Homo sapiens: one gene and its partners. The protein of the gene in region 3 interacts with the protein of the main gene of each other region in a pairwise test. Each region holds a gene or a part of one and is shown on either strand. Other genes may lie near its edges. The genes, in order: USP15, SYT6, MAD1L1 and CWF19L2.

Region 1 (7,027 bases), on a different chromosome or scaffold from region 3:
TTTTTTTTCCAAAATAATAAATTCATTACAATTTTTTTTGTTTTTTAGTACAAAGTGGTTGTCCCCAAAATTGGAAACATATTAGATCTTTGTACAGCATTGTCTGCTTTGTCAGGAATACCTGCAGATAAGGTAAGATGTTTCTGGGGTTGAAGTATATAAGTTGGTATTTAGTTTCTCAGTGCTGTAAAACCAGCTTAATAGAAATTCGTTTCCTTTTAGATGATAGTTACTGATATATACAATCATAGATTTCACAGAATATTCGCTATGGATGAAAACCTTAGTAGTATTATGGAACGGGATGATATTTATGTGTAAGTATAAAACTCATTGTGCAAAATATTACTTGAAAAAAAATTAATAGAAGTAACATAAAATTTTGAGAGTTTATGGTCAGTTTTGTCCTTGTAGGTTTGAAATTAACATCAATAGGACAGAAGATACAGAGCACGTGATTATTCCTGTTTGCCTAAGAGAAAAATTCAGACACTCGAGTTATACCCACCATACTGGTTCTTCACTTTTTGGTCAGCCCTTTCTTATGGCTGTACCACGAAACAATACTGAAGACAAACTTTATAATCTCCTGCTCTTGAGAATGTGGTAAGTGCCAGACAATTCTACATTGACAAAATAAATATGGGAATAAAATATAAAATAGCTAATAAAAATAAACACATAAGGTACTATTGGAATATAATTATTCAAGTCTGTATTATCTCAATTTTGTTCATAGTCAGATTATAGTCCTAATCCACTTTCTTATTCATGTAAAACATATTATGGAGGTAATTTCAAACCCAGGAAGCACGAAGTCTGTAGCAGTTTTAAACCAAAAGTTTACAGTTAGAAGGACATAGGAATTTATGTTATAATAATTATGTGTTACATGTTCATTCTGTGAAATCATAACAAATGTCAAATGCCATATGTTTGCACTGTGAAATAACAAATGTCAAATGCTTCATTTCTTTATATACATTACCAGTTCATGATTAATAGTATTGTAAGGCAGCCTATTTTTTGCCTTCCTGAATAAATCCCTTGATTTGAATTATGAAGTTATCAAGAATGTCATTTGATCCCTTTTATCCTTGAAAGCTGGTATATTTAGTATTCTTTCTTGCATATCTAATTATTATAGTTTCATAACCCATATATAAAGATCACATTATACAAATATAAGTGTTTTTAGCAACAATATATACCATCTAAATAGGGTAAGTTGAGAAATTATTTGCAACAAACATTTAACATTTAACCTAAAAGGTAACATATTAATTATTTTTATAAAGATGAGCAAAACAAATTACTAGTCAGTTATACTTATGGTACTAAAAGTTTGAATTTATCTTTGAATCTACTAAGTGACCACTGTTACTGCATTAAAAAGTTTTGTTTTACTGATAGAAGGAAAACTTTTTAAAAGTTTTTATCTTTGTAGTACTGAACTTGTTTGATTTTTGATTTTACTTAAGCCGATATGTCAAAATATCTACTGAAACTGAAGAAACTGAAGGATCCCTACACTGCTGTAAGGACCAAAATATTAATGGGAATGGCCCAAATGGCATACATGAAGAAGGCTCACCAAGTAAGACTTTTCTGTTAAATTGTACAAATGTTTCACTTAGATAATTGCCTCAGAGAAAAAGTTAAGAAAATGGGAATTAAAGAACTAAAAAATACCTGGAAACCTAGGATTAATAATATTAATAATTTAAAAATATAGCATTGGGTTTATTTAAAGCTCTCTAATATCTAAAATTAGGTGAAATGGAAACAGATGAGCCAGATGATGAATCCAGCCAGGATCAAGAACTTCCCTCAGAGAATGAAAACAGTCAGTCTGAAGATTCAGTTGGAGGAGATAATGATTCTGAAAATGGATTATGTACTGAGGATACTTGCAAAGGTCAACTCACGGGACACAAAAAACGATTGTTTACATTCCAGTTCAACAACTTAGGCAATACTGATATCAACTACATCAAAGATGATACCAGGCATATAAGATTTGATGATAGGCAGCTTAGGCTAGATGGTAAGTATTTGTGAAAAATGGCTTGAACATTAAACAAGCCGAGCATGTTATTTTTTTTTTAGGTGAAAACCATGAAATTCAGCTCTGTCAAGAAATATACCATTTACTTTTCTATCTCAAATTTTACATGAAAGGACTTAATATCTAAGTAGACTAAAATGTGTGTTTGTGTTTCATAAATGGAGATTGAACTCATGCTTCAGTTTTCTATCTTTTTTTAAACTCTTAAATTATTTCAATGGCTTGGAAACTGCTGTTTGCCCTAATCACCAGTACAAGTAGAAAAGATTGCTGTTTGTTTATTCTGGTGTATATCCTAACATTAAAATATACTTTAATACTAAGACATATTAAATTTTAAAGAAAAAATATGTTTTCCACCTTAGAAAGATCTTTTCTTGCTTTGGATTGGGATCCTGATTTGAAAAAAAGATATTTTGATGAAAATGCTGCTGAGGTAAGTCATCACTCACTCACTTATTTACCTTTCCTTGATTTACTTTATGTGATTACCAGAGATAATCATACTGTTGTGTTACACTCTTTGCTTCCACCAAATATGTTTATTTTGCCAGTAAAAAATTGGTCATGAACTAGAAAAAAAAGTCTTTGCAAAAATACCTTTTTTTTTTAAAGGTTCAGAGTTCATTTTGAACGTGTTTTGGTCATCCATATAGAAGTGTACAGGAATTATTTAGAAGTATATAAATCTCAACTGAAATAAGCTTTATGATTCTTTTGAGAAAGTTTAGGAGTTTTCATTATTATTCATAGTAAGATGGTATCACTAAAATGAGTTTTGTTTCATTTGTTCTCTTAACTCAAGAAATACTTCTCTTTAGGACTTTGAAAAACATGAAAGTGTGGAGTATAAACCTCCTAAAAAACCCTTTGTGAAATTAAAAGATTGCATTGAACTTTTTACAACAAAAGAAAAGCTAGGTGCTGAAGATCCCTGGTAAGAGACAAAATTAAATAATTGTTTTTGTTTTCTTTAAGGATTTATTCTGAGATATGTGCCACATCAAGTTGAAAAAGTAATTACTAAATTCTCTTTGATGTTTTAAATAGTAAAGGATTCTTTATATAAGTTGTAGCCTATTAAGAGGGATGGGAATGTCTTAAAAAATACGATTACAGTGTTGCCTTAATTTTATTACTGTGTTTTTCATAATAGCCATTATACTATTAATTCATTTTAGTTACCTTTTTTCCAAGAAATTTTAGCTATGTAATCATTTTGAGAGAAGCTTTTTAGGAAAAATGTAGTGATATATTTTGTGGTGTTATTCCATTAGAGCCCAGATTTGAGATTTTCTAATACCTGTCTTCCAGCACAGATTTGTGACCTATGTCTTTTTTGCATACTAAAAGAGAAATAATCTAGCCCTCATTATGTCTTTAAGTATTTATTTGTATATTAATTTGTAATGGTTTAACCTATTTGGAAAATGTCTTGAAAATAAAAATAATAAGAGTTGCTTTCAACCTGGTACATATTAGGCATACTATAATTGCCCACTGAATAAATGTAGAACTTTCCAAACATTTTTGTTTATTATTTTCATTAATGGGGGTTGTTTGTACCTCTATCAAGTGTTAAATACTTCTGTTTATTCTTAGGTATTGTCCGAATTGTAAAGAACATCAGCAAGCCACAAAGAAATTGGATTTATGGTCCCTGCCTCCAGTACTTGTAGTACATCTCAAGCGATTTTCTTACAGTCGATACATGAGAGACAAGTTGGATACCTTAGTTGATTTTCCTATCAAGTAAGCTTTAATTGTACTTTATAAGCATTGGGCAACTCTTCTTTCAAACTTATTTGATGCTTTTTGTTATTATCCTTTAGTAAACATCAGGTGCCATTGGACCCAATTTCAGCTTTCAAGTTTGTTTTTGAGTAGTTCTAACAGTTTATAAGGATCAGTGTTTCAAAATTTTTATTTTTTCTTAGAGATTTTCCAAAGATCAAAGAGAAAATATACTTTAAAAAAATAAAAACAATAAAAATCCTTCTGTGTTATATTACCTATGGGTTAATTGGTCTCATTTATAAATCTAAGATACTTTATGGTACTTAGTGATTTTGTTTATCCTAGGAATTACTTCATCATTACTCATCACTTACTCCTAAATATGTTGGGGTTTTTTGGTGTTTCTTTTGTTTGTTTTTTGAGACAGGGTCTCACTCTGTTGCCCAGGCTGGAGTGCAATGGTGCAATCTCGGCTCACTGCAACCTCCACCTCCTGGATTCAGGTGATTCTCCTGCCTCAGCCTTCCAAGTAACTGGGATTATAGCCACCCGCCATCATGCCCGGCTAATTTTTAGTACAGACGAGGTTTCACCATATTGACCAGGCTGGTCTCGAACTCCTGACCTCAAGTGATCCACCCGCCTTGGCCTCCCAAAGTGCTGGGATTACAGGCATGAGCCACTGTGCCCAGCCCTAAATATGCTGTTTTCAAAAAGACTAAAATAAAACAACAATGGAATTGCTTAGAAGGATAACACAGTAGTGAAATAAATCATCCCTATTGCATTATCCTTCAGTTTTCCTATTGCCATTATATGACATCATATTTGTAAAAAGATATATCTATGGCCATACCACCTTGAACGTACCCTGATCTTGTCTGTAAAAAGATACAAAGAAGTCTGTATACATCTTCACACTTTATCTCTCTTTTTTTCTTCCCCTGCTTTTAACAGTTGAGAATTCAGAATGACAAAAAGGGAACATTGTATTCCCCGTCACTTAGTTATTCAGCAGAAGGACTTCATCACACAATATTTTGTACAAGTACTTGGTACTATCCCATTTTGCAAAAAGAACTTTCAGCGGTATTATTTCATATCCTGTGATATTTGTACACCAAAATGTACTTGATACAGTTAGTAAGTAGACAATTGCTAAAGGCAGGTGTATCTATAAAGGTAACTAGAAGGAAATAGATTACATAAAACAAAATATTCACTGGATTACTCATTCTAATTGGTGGCTATAAATTTAAAATTTAAAATTATTTGTAATTATTGAGTGAAAAAAAGATCATTTTCTCTTTAACAAAATAGTGAGCCATAAGTTTTCAAGAATATAGCATTTGGCAATGTAAGTATAAGAAAAAGAATCAGGGCTGGGCACAGTGGCTCACGCCTGTAATCCCAGCACTTTGGGAGGCCGAGGTGGGTGGATCACAAGGTCAGGAGAGCAAGACTATCCTAGCCAACGTGGTGAAACCCCATCTCTACCAAAATTCAAAAACATTAGCCGGGCATGGTTGTGCGCGCCTGTAGTCCCAGCTACTCGGGAGGCTAAGGCAGGGGAATCGCTTGAACCCAGGAGGCGGAGATTTCAGTGAGCTGAGATCGCGCCACTGCACTCCAGGCTGCCTGGCGACAGAGCGAGACTCCCTCTCAAAAAAAAAAAAAAAGAATCAGAAGTAATGACAAACTAGAATCTATCAGAGATGTATTTAAAATTTAGAATCATTATTGCTTTTTAATGATGCAAATACAAGAAGAACAACCAGAAATAATAATAAGCTATTTACAAGAAGTCGTTTTCCAGGTTCTTGAATGATAGATTTTGATTAGTCAGTTACATTCAAAGGATGTTGCCCATTTCGGGTATATAGGTCATCAAAGACAGCAAATGTAGAATAAAAATTAAGGTTTGATATATTAATATTTTTTAAAACTTCTAAGGAAGTTTTCACTATTCCTGTATTTTTCTTCATATAAATCACTTCCTCTTTTTTAATCTCTGACCCTGCCCATAAATTACTTTCTAAAATTGACTGTAAAATAAAGATCTACTGGACCCAGATGGTCAATAGTGATGACTGTTTTTCCTGGTATACTGAGAGTTAAATGTGTTAGCATGAAAACGTTTATCTGAATGACAACATTCCACATTTTTATTTTATTTTATTTTTTTATTTTTGTGGGTACATAGTAGGTGTATATATTTGTGGGGTACATGAGATGTTTTGATGGAGTGTGAAATAGTCACATTATGGAGAATGGGGTATCCATCCTCTCAAGCGTTTATCGTTTGTGTTATAATCCAGTCACACTCTTAGTTATTTTTAAATGTATAATTAAGTTATTATTGACTATAGTCACCCTGTTGTGTGATCAAATAGTATGTTTTATTCATTCGTTTTTTTTTTTAACCCGTTAACCATCCCCACCTTACATCTCCCCTACCTTCCCACCACACTTGTCATCCTCTAGTAATCATCCTTCTACTCTGTCTGTCTATGAGCTCAATTTTTTTTTATTTTTAGATCCCACAAATGAGAACATGGGATGTTTGTCTTTCTGTGCCTGGCTTATTTGATTTAACATAATCTCCAGTTCCATCCATGTTGTTGGAAATGGCAGGATCTCATTCCTTTTTATAGCTGAATAGTACTTCATTGTGTATATGTACCAGATTTTCTTTAGCCATTTATCTGTTGATAGACACTTAGTTCCATCAACATTGCAACACATAGTTTCGTCAAATCAACAAGATTTGGTTGTTTCCAAATGTTAGCTGTTGTGACCATTGCTGCGACAAACATGGGGAGTGCAGATATCTCTTCAGTATACTCAATGAAGCATTTTAAAATTTTCAACCCATAAACAAATGTTTGCCAAAACATTAATATCTCAGAGGTACATGTATGATTTGTTTTGTAAGTTATTTGACTCATGATAATTTCCTTAGTGAGATATATATATATATAGATAGATATATATAGATGGATAGATATAGATATATATATGTATGTCAAACAACAATGGCAGAAGGGAATAGAATTCATTGCATTTAGGGACAACATAAAAATTAACTTGGTTTCTTTTTTAAACAGTGACTTGGATATGTCGGAATTCTTAATTAATCCAAATGCAGGTCCTTGCCGCTATAATCTGATTGCTGTTTCCAACCACTATGGAGGGATGGGAGGAGGACACTGTAAGTTGACA
Region 2 (7,027 bases), on a different chromosome or scaffold from region 3:
CATTATCCCAAGAAAGGGGTATGCCCCTATGAGGGATGCCCCTCTTTGTGAGAAATTATTAAGCAGACCTCCCATCCCACTTCCCTCTCCAAATTTGGGAATGAACCTTTGAGCCCAAGGCCTCTTCTTGCTCGGAGTAGAGAAGTTAGAAGGCTCTGAACCAAGGGCATACTTTGCAGGGTTTGCAAAAAGGTTACTGTGGACAAACTAGCAGAAGAGTTTTGTTTGGCTTGCTTAATGATTGAAACGTTAAGAAATTCCATCATCATCGTCACCCCAGACTTCTGAATTCACTGGAAAAGACCAATGACTTGGTAATTGAACATGGGCTCCCACATGGTGGGAACTGGTGACTCTCTTTGTAAGGATATGTCCTCACCAGCTCAACCCTCCACTTCCTGTTCCCTGTCTGGCCCCTGAAAGCTTGTAAGTTTGAAGCCTCTGTATTAGCCTGTCCAAATGCCTTAAAAATCTTACTATTTAAGGTAAGAAATGACCCCACAAGTAGTGAGGCCAGGCTGTGCCTTTAAAGATGGCAGCAGTGGTTCACAGAAGGGACTTGCTTGGAGTCACAGGTTGGTCAGACACAGAACCTGGACTAGGGTCCAGATGTCCACCACCCAGGCTGGCACTCTTTCCTCTGCCCTGACCTGTCTGTCTCTGGTTAAACTGTAGGCTACTATGACACGTGTTTTTCCTCTTTGTCTGATTCAGGGCCTCACATAGAAACTGGCACATGGAATGAATGAGTGACTGAAAGAATGATGTATGAGAAGGCTGTAATTAGCTCTCATTTCAATTAAGGTCAAGCAACATTTACTGAGTACTTGCCATGTGCCAAGTTCTGAGCAAGGCTTGAATGCCCAGTCCCCTGCTAAGGGGATCCAGGTACTCCCACAGCACATAGGCTCCAGGGAAAGAGATCCCACATCAGGGGCCAAGAAGGAGTTGAGGATATCAGCCACTCTCTCTGGGAAGCCAGCACTGCCTTTTGATTCCTTTGCTGCAAGTTACTTGCCTAGATCAGTTATCACCTCCGAGAATAGGTAATAATAGCAGAGAATCCTCAAGTCCTGAGCCACCTACCACCACCCCCTTCCCAAGCCTTCCCAACACCTGGCTCCCTGCACAGGGACATTAGAGCCTTTCCCTGGCCAAAGGAGCTGGAGGTAGTCCTTCACCTGGAGACTGCCAGACACCGGGAAAGCTCATTCTAAGTCAACTTCTATACTAAAGGTCTCCAATGTGGTGGTGTCTCCAATGGGGTGAAGCTCGGGGCAGGTGGACACAAGAGAAAAAAACCAAGCCATTTTAATATTTATAATCTTTAAAAGAAATCAAATTTTTAATATACAGGTTGATAGGAATAATAGCATGTTATTAGATTTAGGCAATTTATTCAACATTACTATGTCTAAGGTTCAAAGAGCTTTATATCTATTCACTCATTTAATCCTCTCCAATGAAAAAGGTATGATTATTATCCTCATTTTGCAGATGTGGAAACTGAGGCACAGAAGGTTAAATAGATTTCCCAGGTCACACAACTAGTGGGTGGTGAAACTGGGCTACAACCCAGCCAGTCTGGTTCTGAAGTATCACCTCTGTGGAACATGTATGTAACTTGGGAACAAAAAAACATATATTGGAGGTATTAAGTTTTTTTTTTTTTTTTTTTTTTTTAACCTGTTATGAGTTCATGATCTAAATAATTTGGAGACTCTTTCTTCAGGTCTTTATCCTAGTGGGCTCACCAGGGAAGTCACCACAGCTATATGTGTCCTTATTCTACATATCTGGCCATCTCTAGCCCTTCACATCTGTTCTCTGTTACAGCTGTTCTGGATGCATTCTCTGCAATATGAGTCACCTCAAAACAAAAGGTGTTTCTAGGGCTTTGCTTTCCTTTGATCATACATCTTACTTGTTCTGGTAATAATTAGAATTTTAATGAGAAGGGGAGTAGGGGGAATCTAGAGAGCATAGAGTGCATTTAAATGTTCAGCCTGACAAATAATTGAATTCGTAAATGAAAAGAGAGGTAGGAGAAGGGGGTGGGGCAGGACAATGAGGTTTTCCTTGGTGTGGTTGCTATTTAGATTGCCTCTCCATGTGACCCCCAGCTGCTGTTCCCTCAGAGCTGTGATTAGGGGAGGCAGAGGGCATGGTTTTTTGGAATCAGCACCCAGCACTCAATACTGGTTATATGAGACCAGGAGGCCCGTCCTATGCCTGAAGAATCTTATTGCAGGACTAGAGGAGCCTGGGCTTTTGACATCTCACTGGCAGGCAGTGCAAGGAGAATTAGGTCTCAAACACTGAGTGGGTTTGTCTTCACAGGAGATGCAAGGTTGGTGAGCAAGGCTAGTAAGACCAGAAGCAGGCAGCAGGGAGGAGGTGACTGTAGAAGATTCAGCTCATTTAAAATCACTGTATGTGGCCTTGAACTCAGACATCCCTCATCTCCTAGTTTAAGTTACATTGAGATTAGAAAGGGCTGTAGGCTTCTGTACAGCCTAAGGGCTGCATAAAGGCCCAGATAACCTAAGCTGTATGCCTTCCCACTCTGGGCTTGCTGGGGCCAACCCACTGGGACATGTCCCCTAGGAAATCACAGGTGCACAAATAGCCTTCAAAACCCTTTTCCCATTCACATCTTGTTTGAACTTTGACCCCTTGAGGCAGCTAGAACTTTGATGGGCAACTCTGCCAGTTTCTGAGTCCTGATCCAGTGCTCTTCCAATTTACACCACACGTTCACTTCAGGAAAAGCTAGAAGTAAGCCTCCAGTAAGGGAGAGAGGGCTCAGCCCAGCACTGAAAAAGAGAAAGTACCTCCTAGGTATTTGGATGCTTCTTCCCTGTCTTCTTCTTTACTTCTTCTTCAGCTTAGAGAGAAGGAAGCATTGCCCTGAAGTCAGACTGGCCTCACTAACAGTCTACCTCTACTAGTTTTAAACTGTGACCTTGGCAAACTATGTAACACTTCTCAGCCTCAGTTTCCTCATCTATAAATTGGGGGTAATAATAGTATCTACCTTTAGGGTCATTGTGAGGTTTAAATGAGACCAAAACTGTTGAGGATAGTGCCTAAGATGTAATAAGCAATATAATAAATATCACCTATTTTTATTAGAATTAGTTATGCCCAGCCCAATTTGAAACAGTCCTTAGTTTTGAAATTTGTTTAATGGGCAGAACACCTGAAAACCATTGAACATTAATCAACAGAGATAGCTTTAACCTTGTCTTTACAAACCAAGAACAATCTTACTAGCAGAAATAATATAATGGTTTTGGACATAGCCAGGTCCGTCTGTATCTTGAGACGTAACACAAACTATGGTTCAGATCACACATCTCCAGGCTTTTCCTGCTAATACTCATTTGCTTGCTGCCTCCTCAGTTGTTTTGTTGTTACCATCACCAGCCAGCTGGTGAACAGGAATGAATTCCAAAGAAGTAAGAAGAAGATCATGGAAGAAAAACCTATAATTGAGAACATCCTATGTTCTTGAAAAATTTCTTGAAATTTGGGGAAAAGAAGCCTATTGCTCAATATTCATTGTAAAATGTTTTCATTCAGGCATCAGAGGAGCTCTAGTATTTCATGGGCACCTGATTTGGTAAACCATAGTAGCCAACTCTCCAGCAGTCTCATGGGAGAGAAAACAGCTATGGAACTAGGCTTTGGGATCACACCCCAGTGACATAGCCTTGTACAGGGGCACATGGCTTCTAGCCCTGGCTGTGAAACTGAACTCACAGGTGCTCAGACACAGGATGGACATCTCAGGTGGGCGGCAGTGCCAGAATGACCGACAGCACAGCATGTATCATCTTCATTGCTTTCTAATTGCGTGACCTTGAGCAAGTTATTTAACCTGTCCAAATCTTAGTTTTCTCTTTTATTTAGTCAGGATTCGAATTATTCCTACTTTGCAGAATCATTGTGAATATTAAATAAGCTAAGACTTTGAGCACAGGCCCTGGTACACAGTGAATGTCCCCAAAATGTAAGCTGCTGTTATTCTTCATGTTTTGTTTTTTGGTGGAGGATAACAGTTGACTGTGTATACAGAACAGACACAAAGCTAAGCTAAGTCTTTGAGGCAGGGAAGGGAGACTCCAGATCAGAGGACAAAGAATCTGAGGGACGTCAGGCCCCTCTTCTCTCCTGGGAAGTTGAGATCCCCTTCAAGGCCATCAGGATAGGATCTGCTTGTCACCTTAAATGAGACTGTCTGGTTGGGGTGATGGCCCATGGTCTCCCTCCTCTTCCAGAAAATGCTGGGTTATTAAATAGCAGCTCAGGGCTTTCTTATCTTCCCCCACTGACACTTCTTTCTCCAAAGACAGCCCTAGTGCCCCCTCCCCTCTTCTCCACCCATAGTGTTAGAATTCATCAGCAATTCTTATTGCTTGCTATTGTTCCCATTTTTCTAATGGGCTCCCACATCAGAAAAATCCATTTTGTAACAGTAACAGGCGTTCTTGCTAACAGATTGTAATTGAAGAGATAAACTGGGAAGAGGAAGCAAAAAGAAAGAACCATTTTCCCTACTCACCCCAAAGCCAGAGAAGGCTGGCTTCAGGGCCTGGAATTGGTGGTGGACCCTCAGAAACGGTCAGTGCTCAGGCTGGGGAGAGCAGGAGCTGCCTCGGCCAAGGAGCTCTCGTGCAGACACAGACAGAGACATAGACAAAGCACAGCCCAGAGGCCAGGGAGCAAGTGACGCAGAGGCCCAGGAGCTTGGAAGAAGAGCGTTTAGCCTGGGAAGAGAAGAGATTCTGGGCAGAACCACTCATAAAATACTAATAATATCATTTATTTATTTATTTATTTATTTATTTATTTATTAATACATAGTGAGCATTATGCCCTTTACATTATCTAATTTAACCTTTCTAGCCTCCCTAAGAAATTGGTATACACCCTTAAAGATAAAGAAACTAAGCATAGAGATGTTAACCAGGTAACTTGTTCAAGGGTACAGTGCATTAAGGAGAAGAGCTGGGATTTGAACCTAGGACTTGCTGATGCCCAAATCTGGGCTCTTGAATCACGTATCTGGGAGGACTACAGATTGAGCTGTGGAGTCCCAGGCTGGACAGAGAAGTTGGAGTGGGGGCAGGCATTTCTTAGTTGTACTCAGGAGAGGATGGGAGGGATACTCCCACTTTTTGGCCTGACCCTATGAACCTGGACAGAGCCCCAGAGACTCAGATTATGACCAGCCTGGTGACCACCTGCCCCATCTTCTTCCCTGGAAAGCTGACACTTCAGGTTGCCCACCAGCCACCAGGCAAGTAACCAGTGGCCTCTGGAAAAGGTGTACCTGAGGAATATCTGAGAGAGAGAGAGAGAGAGAGATTGTGTGTGTGTGTGTGTGTGTGTTGGGAGAACAGAGCTATTCTGTACTGAGGCTCAGACGTGGCCCATTAATAATTAATAATAAGCTCTGCCAGGGCTTGTAAGTTTATTAGGAGAACCGGTGTAATTAAAATTCAGGGCTGGGGGGAGGGGAGCAGAGGGCTTTTGCTTCCTTTGCTTCTTTCAGAGATCCAGACTGAGCTACCAATGGGGATAATTAGCAGAGTCCAAACAGAGAAGGAATTAATGCTCCTGAAAAAGCTGTGATGAGGAGAGACAATGCCAAGCTAATTACGGCCGCACCAAGCTTTATGACTGGGCGCTCACTTCCACCATCATTAGGGGATTCAGAGCTAAATCGGAGACTAATGTGGAGTGTTACAGCTAACAGAACATTGGCACTAATTTAACAATTATTAATATTATTAGTTTGGTGGATGGTAACTGTACCTTTCTGCTTGAGGGGTCAGGGCATGTGGCCCTTCTGAATGTGGGATCAAGGCTGGAGTGATGGAGGTGGAGGGCAGACAGCCAGAAATTCTTTTCCCTCTATGCTTCTCTCCCTGTTTGTACCTGCAACTAGTGAGAGGAGGGGTCTGCCTGGGTCCTCGGGGAGCAAGAAAGAGTTCAGTGCTCCTAGAAGAAAGAAGGGAGGGATGAGGTTGTGTCATTATACTTGGAGGGTCCAGATCTGGATGCCCCTGTTTATTTCTACTTTCAGAGACTCCTCTGATTTCAGTTCCTAAGTGTGACTCAGTCCTTAGAGGCTTCTTTTCCTAAGCAAGAATAGAAAGGGTGCCACCCAGTTTAGTCGGAACTTTGTCTTAGCATGCTTTCCCCACTCCAGACAACCCTATACAGACCATAAAGAAACCTGGTTTGATCCAGATGCCTCAATGCCACTCCTCACTATTTGCAGCCACATGTTATACCCCTAACTCTGTGGACAGGGAAGATAAACTTCAGACAGTTAGAAGAGAACATGTCTTTTGTACAGAGCTTAGAGGGATGACACATACTGAAACCACCATCCCTACTTGACGTTCTCATCAAAGTCAGAGGGAGAAGAAAACTTCTAGAACTATAAATCTAAGGGCTCTACAACTCTTAGATACTGGACCCTGCTTCTAGAACTCTAAAGCTCAAAACACACTAGTCAGAATATCATCTCCTTGGGTTCTAAAGGATTGTGCATTGTACCTTTCCTCAAAAAGGGCAAAATCTGCAGAATTCCATCCTTCCAGTGAGAAGGACAAACATCACATAAATTTCATGGCCACAAGTAAACTGGAGTTAACCACTCCCGGCTGCCAGCCTAAGAAAAACAGGGAAGCTTGAGGTCTCCTGTCAGGTTTCTGCATTTGCTGGAGCACTTCTGGACCTCTGCTTGCTACCTTAAGTCCAGAACCCATGCTGACCATACCTAAACCTCTGCAGCTTGGCTTATGGAAAAAGTTCATTCATTTCTACAAGGCAAATGACACAATGAAAGGTGGAGAACTGCTTATTAGTGTTCACTTGGGGTGTATTAAGGAGAATAGCAGGCCTATGGCTTCAGAGTTTTTAAAGAAAAAGGGGAAACTTGCTTTTAGTTTGGACAGTTTGTGTACAGGTGTTTCCAAGTCAGGGTCTGATTAACTGAGACTTCCTGTGC
Region 3 (7,027 bases):
CCCAGCGTTGGCACCCCCGCTGTGGCACCATGACGGTGAGCACTGTGCGAGGTCAGGGCTCCCAGGAAGGGCACTTGGCACAGATCACACACACATTTATCACACCGTCTGCTCAGCAGTTGCCTCTGCAGGGAGAGGGGGCATGGGAAATCTAAAATTCAGCATTGACCTTGGGGAGAAGCTGAGCTTTCATAGCACCAGCAAATCCTGTCTAATTACGCTCTGTCCGGCACTGAAAGGAGCTGGCACTCCCCCAGCGAGCAGACAACAGGGGCAGAGACAGGCAGCGTGGACAGGAGGCTGTGGGCAGAAGCAGTTTACACTGGGCTCAAATCTGCCACACATGCACCCCCTCTCACACAAACCACAAACCTCCAGACCCACCCCCCACGACTGGCCTTAGGGAGGCCGCGTGGCTCTCACTGGTTGGGATGGGACATGACCAAGCACCACGCTCAGACCTCCTGACTCTAATGACCCGCAGGCCCTCCAGAGTTCACTGCCAGGTACCGGCGTCCCAGGAGGTGAAGGCGGTGAGTCCTGGTGGAGCCCGGCACTCCGGGACCCTCTCACCCTGCCTTCCTCGGGAAGCACCAAGCACTCCCGGAGCCCCGGGTGGAGTACGAGCTTGTGCTGTCCTCATCCAGGGTACTCCAGCCCAAAACCCAGGAGAGCTGTGACAGAGGTGGCCGCCTTCTGAGAGAGGCTGACCCGCGCACCTCGGAGGGACTCCAGCCCTTGTGAGCTGCAAGGGCTGCCTCACAACAACCAAGAGACCCTTCTGTGATGCAGGACAAGAACTGGGGTTGGCACGGGGCTCCGCTCAGCACCATCACAGCCAGATGCGGCACCGGGCCTGGAACTGCCAGTCCCAGCGCAGACAGGGCAGCCAGCAGGTCTTTGGACTTCAGACACTTAAGTCTCGCCCCTAATAGGTATTTCCAGGTGGAACTCCAAGGAACAATTGGAAAACTACTGGTTCTGACTGTTCCTGGGGTCCCATGCAGCTGTGTCTGCGGGCAAGGAAGGACAGTCCTGTTAGAAGGTGGCTGGAGCTCAGCAGGGAGCCCCAGGTGTAAGCCCAGTCACCTGCATCCTTGGATTTCCCCAAGACAGGGTTCCCGGAGACCCTACAATGACCCCTCCCTCAATCCAACATTTGTGAGCACCCATAAAATGCCATAAGCTGTGCCACACAATGGAGATCCTGGGCAGAGTCGGGTGGGCCCTGCCCTCAGGGACTCTCGGCCTAGAGGAACTCCAACAGCTGCACACTGTCCCTCCTGCCTGACAGCCACAGCCATACCATCAGCATGCTGCCTCCAGACCAATGACCTGGTGGCTCCTCTCCACCCCTAACAAGGGAATCTCAGTAGTTAGGGAGACTCCTGTGGACTCTCCCTCCCCTTCCCACCAATTCCTCCAGTACTGTCCCTCCTAGGACCCACCCAGGCCATGAGCAAACGCCCCACCTCTCAGGGAAAACAGCTCTCAAAGCAGCAACGGAGCCAACCCTGAGGCAGTGGCCCCCACCCCAGCGGTGCCTCAGTCTCACTGAGCCCACACAACGCACACCGCAGTCAGGATCTGCAGGCCAGGGGCAAGCAATCCAACCAGCATCACACCCCGGAAGACGTGAGCTATTTTTCTAGGGCCCAGGAGAGTGTGTGAATACACCGCATGATGTCAGGGCGGGGCTGGACATCCACCCGCCAAGAGAGGGCACGGAGGCCAGGGAGACTTTCCGCCCAATACTCTGCCTGAACCTTGGCAGCATTTCCACAACTGATCAGCACTGACTGAAACCCTGGCAAAGTGCTGTTAATCAGAGCAGAGGGGATCCGCGCACTCAGTGGAAACCTAATTCCCTCCCCAAGGACAGGGTGTTTTCCCTGCTGCCCTGGGGAGCCAGGAGCAACACAGAGCCGCCATTGAGACCGGCACCCTTTGCTAGGGCCCTCCAACCCCAAGACCCAGCATGGACCCGAGACCCTGATCCACCCCATGACCTCCTAAGCCTGTCACTCCTACACCACTTGGCATTTCTGCCAGACCTGCATTCCAATTCTTCCAGAGGGAAGAGGAAACCAGGAGACCCAGCAAAAGAATCTGTGCCAGCACCGCAGCCTCAATGAACAGACACAGCAAGTGTTCCCATTTCATGCCACCCTCCTCTAGGACATCAAGCATAACTGATACCTGCCCCACAGCATGAGTGGCCTCAGAAGGAATGTCCTGGCAACCATGACACAGGGCGTGTCAGGCTTCCAGCCAGCTGGGTTCTCATTTCCTACGGCCTGGCAGGTACCGTGCACAGCCCCCTTGCTCCCAGGGACTGGGATCTGATTTCTTAAGACCTGGCAGGTACCATGCACAGCCCCCTTGCTCCCAGGGACTAGGATGTGATTTCTTATAACCTGGCAGGTACCGTGCACAGCCCCCTTGCTTCCTGGGGCTGTCTGGGCCGACCCTCGCCCCGCCTGAACCCACCTCGTAGTTCCTGGCACTGGTGCTGGCTGCTCTCTCCAGCTCCACTCGAGCCCTCTTGTGACTCAGCTCCATCTGCATTTTCTCCCGCTCCACCTGGATGAGGTGGGACTTCGAACGGATCTGCTCTGCTCTTTCCTCCAGCTGAGCAGGTCGCACCCAAAGAAAAACAGAATCCTCAGTGACGGCATCAAACCAGGTGAGTGACTCAGTGCAGCAGACACACTCCCTGAGGACCCATTCCCGCAGGTCCCGTGCTAAGTCTTGATGTGGCCCAGCCACTGGGCTCCAGGCTGGGGAACAGGGGAGGGGCAGGAAACGGGAAGGTGAAAAAGCCTGGGAAGAGGAAGACGTCTTTTGAGATGACATTAAGCATATTAGTGAAGGCAACGGCCTCGAATGCCACCCATTTATTTACCAGCCAACGGCTCCGTGGGTCGGAAGTCCAGACGTAGGTGGCTGCATTCTCTGACCAGGGTCTCCCAGACTAAAAATCAATGCAGTCGGCCAGGACATGTTCTCACGTGGAGCTCAGAGATGGAGAATGAGGTCTCCTTCCCGACTGGCTGCCAGCCCAGTACAGCCATCAACTCCTAGGTGCTGCCCACATCCCTTGCCACACGGCCCTCTCCATCTCCAAAGTCAACCACGTCCAATCTCCCTCATCAAATCCCTCTCCTGCTATGTCTCTTGACTGCTCGGCCTCGGACGTCTGGACTCAGACTTAAAGGGCTCAGGTGAGTACATCAAGCCCACCAGGGAGTGGATCAAGCCCACCCACGTAATCTCCCTATCTCAAGGTCAACAGATCTTAGACCTTAATTACATCTGCACAATCCCACAGCAATGAAACCTACTCAGTATTGGACTGAAACCTGGGAGGCAGTAGGAAGGTGAGTGTGCACAAGGAGCCTGGAATCTGGGGGCCCTCTCAGAAGCCTGCCTACCACACAGGGTTAGTGATTACAGGTGAGCTGAGCCTCTGGGGGCCCTCTCAGAAGTCTGCCTGCCACACAGGACTAGTGATTACAGGTGAGCTGAGCTCCTGGGGGCCCTCTCAGAAGTCTGCCTACCACACAGGGCTAGTGATTACAGGTTAGCTGAGCCTCAAAGAGCCCCAGAAGACTTGCCAAATAGTTCCAGAGCCGGCCTTTGGGTACGACCTGCTCAGCTGGAGGAAAAGGCAGAGTCACTGACTCTTCACGTGGCCCAGAGCCTTGCAGTGCAGCATCTCCCGGCACTTAACAAATGCAGAGTCGCAGACTACACCCCAGACCTACTCAGTCAGAATCTTCTCTTTAGGTTGGGTGTGGTGGCTCACACCTGTAATCCCAGTACTTTGAGAGGCCAAGGCGGGTGGATCACTTGAGGCCAGGAGTTCAAGACCAGCCTGGCCAACATGGGGAAACCCCGTCTCTACTAAAAATACAAAAATTAGCTGGTCGTGGTGGTACGCACCTGTAACCCCAGCTACTCAGGCTGAGGCAGGAGAATCGCTTGAACCCAGGAGGCGAAGGTTGCAGTGAGCCAAGATCACACCACTGCATTCCAGCCTGGATGACAGGGCAAGAGTTCGTCTCAAAAAAAAAAAAACAAAAGAATCTAGGCCAGGCGTGGTGGCTCACGTCTGTAATCCCAGCAGTTCGGGGGGCCAAGGTGGGTACATAACTTGAGGTCAGGAGTTTGAGACCAGCCTGGCCAACATGGTGAAACCCTGTCTCTACTCAAAACTATGAAAATTAGCCGAGTGTGGTGGTAACGCACCTGTAATCTCAGCTACTCGGGAGGCTGAGGAGGGAGAATCACTTGAACCCAGGAGACGGAGGCTGCAGTGAGCCAACATTGTACCACTGCACTCCAGCCTGGATGACAGAGTAAGACCCTATCTCCAAAAGAAAAAAAGAAACTTCTTTTTAGACACATTCTCAGGGCGTTCACATGCACATGAAAGGTTGAGAAGCACCAGAGTAGAGTGGTGGTTCCCAGTGGGGTCCAGTTTTGCCCCTGGGAACATCTGGCCCTGTCTGGAGACACCTGATTGTCACAGGGGGGTGGTCACATGTGTCTGCTGCTGGCTGGCGTCCAGGGGGTAGAGGCCAGGGAAGTTGTTAAACAGCCCACAATGCACAAGAAAGTCCTGAGAAAAAAGAATTACCCAGCCCAAATGCCAAGCGTGCCAAGGCCAGGAAAGCCTGGGACAGGGGAGGGAAGTTTCTCTGTCCTCCCACCTGTGTTCTCTGGTGGCCCAAGCCCACACTTCCTTTACTCCTATGTTACTGTGTCTCGATTCTCAGCTGCTGCTGTTTGGGCGTTCCTAAGACTGCCCTTCAAACTCAGCAGCCTTCCTGGTCTCACTTCTGTGTCTGCAGTCAAGCCTGAGCCTCTCGAGAAGGGTGGGCACCCCGCCTGCAGGGGGCACGACCGGCAGGGACCAGGAGTCCCAGACACACCTGATCCGTGTGCCACCTCTGCCTGGAGCTGACTACAACGGAAAGAAAGGAACCCTGAAAGTTTACCCTTACGTTAAATCAACACGATGTGTGAGAAACCAGACAGCACACATTCCCCCGGCCTGCCATGTTCTCCAGGCCCTCCCTGCCACGCCGGGGGCTCAGCAGGAGAGAGAGAACCACGACGAAGTCCAGGAATGGGATGTGACAGGGGCCAGGGACCAAGGCTGGTCTTGCCGCCATCACTCCGCTCACCACCTTGCTCTGACTACCGCACTCCATCACTGATCCCCTCACCGAGAGGCCTTTACCAGTGAGCACTGGGGGCCTCCGAGCCCCAAGACAGACTCTAGAATCCCACAGCTTTGACAGACAGGCCAAGAGGTCCCAGACATTCGCAACACTAAAATCACAGCATTTCAGACCAGAGTTGCCAACTCTGTCACCCGGGCTGGAGTGCAGTGGCGCGATGGCTCACTGCAACCTCCGCCTCCCAGGTTCAAGCGATTCTCCTGCCTCAGCCTCCCGAGTAGGTGGGATTACAGGTGCCCACACCCGCCTAATTTTTGTATTTTTAGTAGAGATGAGGTCTTACCATGTTGGTCAGGCTGGTCTCAAATTCCTGACCTCAAGTGATCCAGCCACCTCAGCCTCCCAAAGTGCTGGGGTTATAGGCATGAGCCACTGCAACCAGCTCAGAGTTGGCCACTTCTCATTTTGTCAGTGATAAAAAACAACTACCATCTATTACCTTCATAATTTCACAAAAGAACATTTACATAAATATTATATATATACACACACACATATATATATATATGACCTAATCTCAGAATAAAAAACAGTCCTCATCAAGAAAGGGCAGTGAGCAAGCTAGCAACTAGCATTCTTTTTTTTTTTTTGAGACAGGGTCTCACTCTGTCACCCAGGCTGGAGTGCGGTGGCGCAATCTCAGCTCACTGCAAGCTCTGACTCCCGGGTTCACACCATTCTCCTGCTCCAGCCTCCCGAGTAGCTGGGACTACAGGTGCCACGCCCAGCTAATTTTTTGTATTTTTAGTAGAGACAGGGTTTCACCGTGTTAGCCAGGATGATCTTGATCTCCTGACCTCATGATCCGCCCACCTCAGCCTCCCAAAGTGCTGGGATTACAGGCCTGAGCCACCACATCTGGCCACAAGCTAGCATTCTAATAAACACACATTAATTCAATTATGCAACAAAACAAATGCACACGCACACACAGTTTAACCAAATGCAGCAGGGCCTCATCTGGGCTCTGAGAGCGCAGGAAGCCAGAGCCTCCTCTAATGCGGACAGAACTACAGAACGGCTCTGGGGACCGCAGCAGGGACTGGGAAAGAGGGTCCAGGCAGAGGAGCCTAGAGGAGCCTGCGCAGCCACAGGGCCCAGGCAAGGCTGGAGACACTACTAGCCAGCACTCCACTCCCCACCACTCCCTACAACTTGGGGGCCCCATTATCGCAGCCCCAACTGGGACTGGGCTCATCACTCTTTGGAGCCTGAAGTCCTTCAGGAGGCCTGAATCCTCTGCAGTTGTGTCTACAGTGAGAAACCCCAAGAACTTGTAATGAAACAAAATACAACTATTTTATAGAAGAAAACTGTAAAAATCACCCCAAAATCTGTAAATGGCCCTCCACAGTCTGAGACCACAAAACACCCAGTCCTTCTGCTCACTGCTGTGGCTTTGTCTCTGGGCTGCCCAGGCACTCTCAGCACTGTGTTTCCAACACAGCCTTCCCGACAGTCCTGGTGCTCACTCCCCCAGGCAGTTTGGGTTCTGTCCTCAATTAGATGAATGAACTGGCTTTCCGATCCTGTCACCAGGGTCTGTGAGTGCACTTGTGTGAACGCAATGCTGAGCGCCAGGCCCACTCAGGGCGCTAACAAGGCAGGCCTTTAAGCCAGGATGGCTCAGGGCCCCAACTAGCCTCCAGCTACGACCCCAAAATGAGGAGTGCCCATAGTGAGACCTGGGAGACGAATAGCTGTCTCTAGGCTCTGCTAATACCGACCCACCTCAACTACAGAAGACTGGAAGAGGTCCTGCCCGGGCCCAGGGTCTC
Region 4 (7,027 bases), on a different chromosome or scaffold from region 3:
TTCAAGAGAAAAATCATTTAATTGAAACAGAACAGGAAAAAACAAGAGAAAATGAAACAGCAAACCAAGACTTTAACACAGCTATCATAAATATGTTCAAGGAAGGGAAAATGTAAAGATAATGAGGAGATAAACTGAAAAACATTAGAAAGATCCAAACGAAACATCTAATGATAAAAAAAAAATACAGTACCTGAAATGAAAATGTCACTGGATAGGGATAACAGTAAGCTAGACACAGCAAAAGAAAAGGCCAGTCGGCCAGGCGCAGTGGCTCACACCTGTAATCCCAGCACTTTGGGAGGCTGAGGCAGGCAGATCACGAGGTCAGGAGATCCAGACCATCCTGGCCAACATGGTGAAACCCCATCTCCACTAAAAATACAAACAATTAGCTGGACGTGGTGATGAGCACCTGTAATCCCAACTACTCAGGAGGCTGAGGGACGAGAATCACTTCAACCCAGGAGGCGGAGGTTGCAGTGAGCTGAGATCACGCCACTGCACTCCCGCCTGGCAACAGAGCGAGACTCCGTCACAAAAAAAAAAAAAAAAAAAAAAAAAGGCCAGTAAACCTGAAGCTCACGACATAGCAATAAAATATACCCAACCCAAGGCATAGAAAGGAAAAAGGCTAGAAAGTAAGTGAACACAGGCTCATCAACCTGTGAGACATTATTTTAAGGAGACTACCAAAATGAGAGGGAACAGAAAAAAAAAATACTTCGAAAAAAGCCTGAAAGTTTCATATTTGATGGAAACTGTAAACTCACAAATCAAAGCAGCACAATGAACCTAAGGCAGATGCTACACTCTGAATGTTTGTGTCCCCCACCAAATTCTTATGTTGAGATCCTGACTCCCAAGACAATGATAATAGGGGCTGAGGCCTTTGGGAGATGACTGGGAATGGGATTAGTGCCCTTATAAAACATAGCCCAAGAGCACTCCCTTCTGCCATATGAGGTTAGAGTGAGAAGACAGCCATCTCTGAGGAACTGAACCCTCATCAGACACAAAGTCTACCAGCGCCTCGATCTTAGACTTTCTAGCCTCCCAAACTGTGAGAAATAAGTTTCTGTCATTTATAATCCACCCAGTTAGTTTTGGTATAGCAGCCCAAATGAACTAAGACAGTAGAATAAACACAAAGAAATCAATACCAAGACATATCACAATTGATTCACTGAAAAATAATGATGAAAAAAAAAGCCCTAAAAGCATCCAGAATAAAAAGGCACACTACATACAGAGAAAAAATATTACAATGACTACAGAGTTCTCAATATGTACAATGCAAACCAGAAGACAATGGGATGACATTTTACAGTGCAAAAAAAAAAAAAAAAAGAAAACACTATAAACTTAAAATTCTTTATCTAGCCAAGTATCTGAAAAATGAAGATTGCTAGTAGGAACTTCTGAGTTTGTGGTAAAAGAAAAAAAGAATGAAGATGAAATAAAAGAAATTTTCAAACAAAAGCTGAGAGAATACAATGTCTGCAAATCCATATTATAATACATGTTAATGAAAGTTCTACAGACAAAAGGAAAATGGTATTAGACAGAAATTCAGACCTACATAAAATAATAAAGAATATCAGAGATGATAAATCTGTGGGTAAATATAAAAGACTTTCTTCATATGTGTAACTTATTTAAAAGATAACTGACTAAAGTATAAATAAAAAGAATGTATGACATTAAAAATTATAAACAATGTGGGTTTATAACATATGTAGAAGTAAAATATATGACAACAATAGCAAAAAATATGGTAGGAGAAAATGGAAGTATATTTTGGTGAAAGTCTAATTATAAAAGTAAAATTATATATTATTTGAGAGTATGGTAAGTTAAAATATGCATAAGACTTAAAGCAGTCATTAAAAATAAATAAGGTATACCTAATAAGCCTACAGCAGATGAAATGGGATGCTAAAAAACACTCGATCCAAAAGACAGGAAAAGGAAGGAACAAAGGAAAAAAGAACAAAGAAAAAATAGAAAAGGAATAACAACATGGTAGACTTAAACTCATCCATATCAATTATTACATTAAACATAAATAATCCAAACCAGTACTATTCAAAGAATTTTTCTATATACTGTCGAATATAGTAGCCACATAAATTTGGCTGATATAATTTTAATGAATTTTAACAAAAAATTTAAAAGCCATAAACAGCTAACAGATTAGAGAGCACAAAAAACATCTAATTGAAAAGTAAGAGACGTGAGCCAAGATTGCGGCACTGCACTCCAGCCTGGGTGACAGTGTGAGACTCCATCTCAAGAAAAAAAAAAAAAAGGAAGAGGCCAGATGCAGTGGCTCACATTTGTAATTCCAGCACTTTGGGAGTCCCAGGTGGGAGGATTGCTTAAGGTCAAGACTTTGAGACCAGGCTGGGCAACATGGCAAAACCACATCTCTACAAAATATATATAGATCATAGGCTAGAATATAAAATGTCTCAAAAACTTTTTAACAACTGAAATTATACAGAGTACAATAAAATAATAATTAAATCCAAAGTCAATAACCAAAAAAACCTAATAAAATCCACAAATATCTGGAAATTTAAAAACTCATATATATATATCCTGGACGTCGAAGTGCACACCCGTAGTCCCAGCTTTCAAGAGGCTGAGGTGGGAGAGTCACTTGAGCCCCAGGGGTTGAAGCTGCAGTGATCTACTACACTCTAGCCTGGGCAACAAAGCAAGACTCTGTCAATCAATCAATAAATCAATCAATCAATAAAATAAAAAAGAAGAAATTGATAGGCGAGATAAAAAAGCAAGACCCAATTATACACTGCTTACAAGAAATACACTTTCAATATATAAAAAAGGTACATTAAAACTAAAAGAATTTTAAAAAGACGATGAAAACACACAAAAAAAGAAAACTGAAGAGGCTTTATTAATATGAGATACAAGAGACTTCAGACAAGAGTATTACCAAAGATAAAAACGAAAACTTCGTAACAACAGTCAGTTCATCAAGGAGCTGTCTATGTACCTAATAAAGCTTCAAAATTACATAAGGCAAAAACTGACAAAACTGAAAGCAGAAATAGGTAAAATCCACAAAACAATTAAGAGATTTCAATACTATTTTCTCAGTAACTGACTGAACAGGTGAACAGAAAATCATTAACACTAAACTTAATACTATTAGTCAACTTTCCCTAATTGACATTTATAAAACACTATACCTAACAATGGCAGAATACATACTCATTTCAAATACATATGGAATTTTCACCAAAATAGATCATAGGCTAGAAAATAAAATGTCTCAAAAACTTTTTAAAAACTGAAATTATACAGAGTATAACATAATAATTAAAATCAAAGTCAATAACCCAAAAAAAAACTAGAAAAATCCACAAATATCTGCAAGTTTAAAAACTCTTATATATCCATGAGTAAGAAAAAGTAAAGTAAAAAATATTTTGAATGGGACAGCAATGAAAATATAACATCAAAGTTACGTAGAGATACAACAGTGCTATGAGAAAATTTTATAAAATAAATACACGTTAGAAAAGATTTCAAATCAGTGGCGATACATTCATCTTAGAAAGTTAGAAAAAGAAGAGCAAATTAAACACAAAGTATTCGCAAAGAATAAATATAGTTTAAATCAATGAAATAGAAAACACACAACCAGAGAAAATTCAAGGAAACTAAAAGGCAATAAAGAAAGATTAATAAAACTGATAAGCCTCAAGACAGACTGACAGAGGAAACAAACAGAAAATAGAAATTACCAAAATCAGGGATGAAAGAGGGGTATCACTATGGATTCCGTAAACATTAAAAGAACAAAGGAAATATTACAAATAACTTTATGACAATAAATTTGACAATTTCTATGGAATAAATTCCCAGAAAAACCGAAATTACTAAAACTAACTCAAGAATAAACAGAAAGTATTTAACACAACTATTAAAGGAATTAACTCTGTCGTTAAACCCATTCCACAAAGAAACTCCAGGACCAAACCGTTTCACTGGCAAATTTTAACACTTATAGATGCAAAAAAAGCACTTACCAAATTCAATACTCATTCAAGATACAAACTCTCAGAAAACTAGAAATAAAATGTCATTTCCTTAATCTGAAAAGGCATACATGAAAGTCCCACAGCAGACATCATGCTTAAATGTAAAAACCTGAATGCTTTGCACCTAAGATAAGGAAAAAGGCAATCATGTCCACTCTCACCACTTCCATTCAACACTATTTTTAAGTCCTAGCTACTGAAATAAGGCAACAACAATTAACAAATAAAACAGGCACAGAGACTGAAAAGAAAAAAGTAAAAGTCTTTTTCACACATGACATACCATTTACCTAGAAATCCTAAGAAATCTACTAAAAAAGCTACTAACACTAGTATTAGTAATTTTAACATGGTGATAAGAGGCAAGGTGAATATATCAAAAGCAGGTTTTTTTTCACTTTTTTCTTTTTTTTCTGATCCTAATGTTTCAAGTCACTTCTATAATTACATACTAGCTGTAAACACATTTAATTTAAAATTCCACTCACGATAGCACTTCCAGAAAACAAAATGGAAAAAAAATAACAAACGACATGTAAGATCTCTACACTAAAAATTTCAGAACATTGTGAGAAAAATCAAAGACATAAATGGATAGAGAGATGTACCAAGTGCATAATGGATTGAAAGAATATTTTAACATATCTATCTCCCTAAATTCCTTCCAATAGGGAAAATTCAGCCTTTTCAACAAATGATGCTAGAAAAACTGGAAATCCACGTGGGAAAAAAATAAACTGACACTACACAACATAAATAAAAATTATTAATGGATTATAAATAAGCAAAAAAGCCAAAGCTATAAAACTTCTAGGGAAAAAAAATAGGAGGCCAAGCATGGTGGCTCACACCCGTAATCCCAGCACTTTGGAAGGCTGAGGCAGGAGATCACTAGAGCCCAGGAGTTCGAGACCAGCCTCGACAATATAGTAAGACTCCATGTCTACAAAAACAACTTTTCTGTACTACATCTGTAGTCATAGCTAATTGGGCTGCTAAGGCAGCAGGATTGCTTGAGCCCAGGAGTTTGAGGCTGCAATGAGCCATGATGGTGCCACTGCACTCCAGTCTGTGCAACATAGTGAGGCTCCATCTCTAAAAACAAACAAAAAACAAAAAAATTTAATAATAACATAAACATAGGAGAAATCACAATCTTGAGGTGCGCAAAAATTAGGATACCAGAAGCACTAAGAAAAAATGATGAAAAACAAAAAAGAAAATATTTAATAAATCAGATTTCACAAAGACATGGAATGCCCTATGGGGACTTAAAATGATGCTCTACATCCTTGTTCTTCAGAGAAATATCACACGAGACATTACACAGTAGAATAGCTAAAAATTACTAAGACTGACAATACCAAGTACTAGCAAGGATGTGGAATTCCTTGGTGACTCCTAGTGCTAAACTTGCCTCAGAGCCAATGGACAGGTGGTTGGGGGGCAACTGGTGCAGCTAAGGGAGTGCTTACACCACCTCTCCCCCAACCCAAGGCTGCACAATGTGCAGCTCCAAAAGAGACCCTGTCCTTCTGCTTGAGGAGAGGAGAGAGAAGAGTAAATACAGGACTCCATCTTGCATCTTGAATACCAGCTCAGCCATAGCTGGTAACCACTAAAGAGCCCTTAGGCCCTGAATAACCAGCACCAATAATCGGGTACTACACTGTGGCCTTCACTGTGTATCTGAGACTTGCTGGATTCAGGTGAGACTCAGCACATTCCCAGCTGTGGTGGCTATGGGGAGAGCCTCCTTCTGCTTGAGAAAAGTAAAGGGGGCTCTGTCTTGCGCCTTAGGTACCAGCTCAGCCACAGGGTGGTAGAACACCAAGAGGGATCTTGGGGTCTCCAGCCCCACGCCTTGGCTCTTGGATAGCATTTCTGGATCTGCCCTGGCCCAGGGGGTGCCCACTGCCCTGAAGGGTGAGTCCCAGGCCGGGCAGCTGACTGAAGAGTTCTTGGGCCTTAAGGGAACATCAGTGGTAGCCTGCCAGTACTACCTGTGGGTCTATGGTGGTGGCTACAGGGTGAGGCCCCTCTGCCTGTGAAAAGGGAAGAGTGGGAAGGACTGCCATTCATAGGTTGAATGCCAGCTCAGCCACAGTTCAATAGAACACCAGGTACAAGTCTAAGGTTTTTGACGCCAGTACCTGGGTCCCTGATGGCACCTCTGGACCCACCCTCAGGCCTGGGGGAACTTGCCACCCTGAAGGGAAAGACGCAGGCCTGGCTGGCTTCATCACCTGCTGATTGCAGAGCCCCAGGGCCTTGAGTGAACACCAGCTGTAGCCAGGTAATTGTTACAGCAGGCCTTGGGCAAGATCCAGTGCTGTGCTTAGCAATAATTCCCAAATCATATCCCTATCCTCTTAGCCTTTCTCTGAAATTCAAGATCAACATTTCCAATATTTTCTGGACATCTCTAAGTAGATGTATCCCAGATATTTTCATATCATAACTAGTAATATATTTTTTACGTTTTCTTGTATTTTAACTTCCCATAAGTTACACATTCAAATAAAATGTTCTCAAATAGCTGCTTTGATTAATTTTAGTACATACTTACTGATGAGCTATCAGATGACTCATTGTTTTTTTCATATTTCTGTTTCTTGCTCTTTTTTTTCTTTTCTTTCTTTGCTTTTTTTGAATGCTTGTCTTTTTTCTTCTTTTTCTTCACAGAGTGTTCCTACAATCATTTTGAACAGGCAAGAAAATAATTTAATTTCATCTTAATTTAAAAGGATGTATTCTGAGAGAAAAAAAATAAACCACATTCTAAAAAACTTTCAATCTCTGATGAAATAAGACCAAGAATATGTCTAAATAAATAAAATCTTTCAGGAAATCTTAACACACCTTCTATAATATATGCACTATCAATAAATCATATAACTGAGACTTCTTACCAGAAAAATACTGGGAAAATTTTGGCTTTATTTGTAGAT

What was found.
Region 1: the proteins of MAD1L1 (region 3) and USP15 interact in binary tests that used the Homo sapiens proteins (3 or more experiments, as listed by UniProt).
Region 2: the proteins of MAD1L1 (region 3) and SYT6 interact in binary tests that used the Homo sapiens proteins (3 or more experiments, as listed by UniProt).
Region 4: the proteins of MAD1L1 (region 3) and CWF19L2 interact in binary tests that used the Homo sapiens proteins (3 or more experiments, as listed by UniProt).

What each region holds. Positions count from the first base shown.
Region 1 is NC_000012.12:62,389,383-62,396,409, forward strand, and holds part of USP15 (ubiquitin carboxyl-terminal hydrolase 15), read left to right. Parts: intron 1-48; coding exon 49-132; intron 133-222; coding exon 223-317; intron 318-400; exon of another isoform or gene 401-414; coding exon 415-606; intron 607-1,481; coding exon 1,482-1,597; intron 1,598-1,774; coding exon 1,775-2,047; intron 2,048-2,433; coding exon 2,434-2,504; intron 2,505-2,873; exon of another isoform or gene 2,874-2,889; coding exon 2,890-3,005; intron 3,006-3,670; coding exon 3,671-3,820; intron 3,821-6,912; coding exon 6,913-7,016; intron 7,017-7,027. UniProt on the Homo sapiens protein: Hydrolase that removes conjugated ubiquitin from target proteins and regulates various pathways such as the TGF-beta receptor signaling, NF-kappa-B and RNF41/NRDP1-PRKN pathways.
Region 2 is NC_000001.11:114,143,844-114,150,870, forward strand, and holds part of SYT6 (synaptotagmin-6), read right to left. Parts: intron 1-7,027.
Region 3 is NC_000007.14:2,222,920-2,229,946, forward strand, and holds part of MAD1L1 (mitotic spindle assembly checkpoint protein MAD1), read right to left. Parts: intron 2,632-7,027; coding exon 2,491-2,631; intron 1-2,490. UniProt on the Homo sapiens protein: Component of the spindle-assembly checkpoint that prevents the onset of anaphase until all chromosomes are properly aligned at the metaphase plate.
Region 4 is NC_000011.10:107,447,805-107,454,831, forward strand, and holds part of CWF19L2 (CWF19-like protein 2), read right to left. Parts: intron 6,769-7,027; coding exon 6,646-6,768; intron 1-6,645.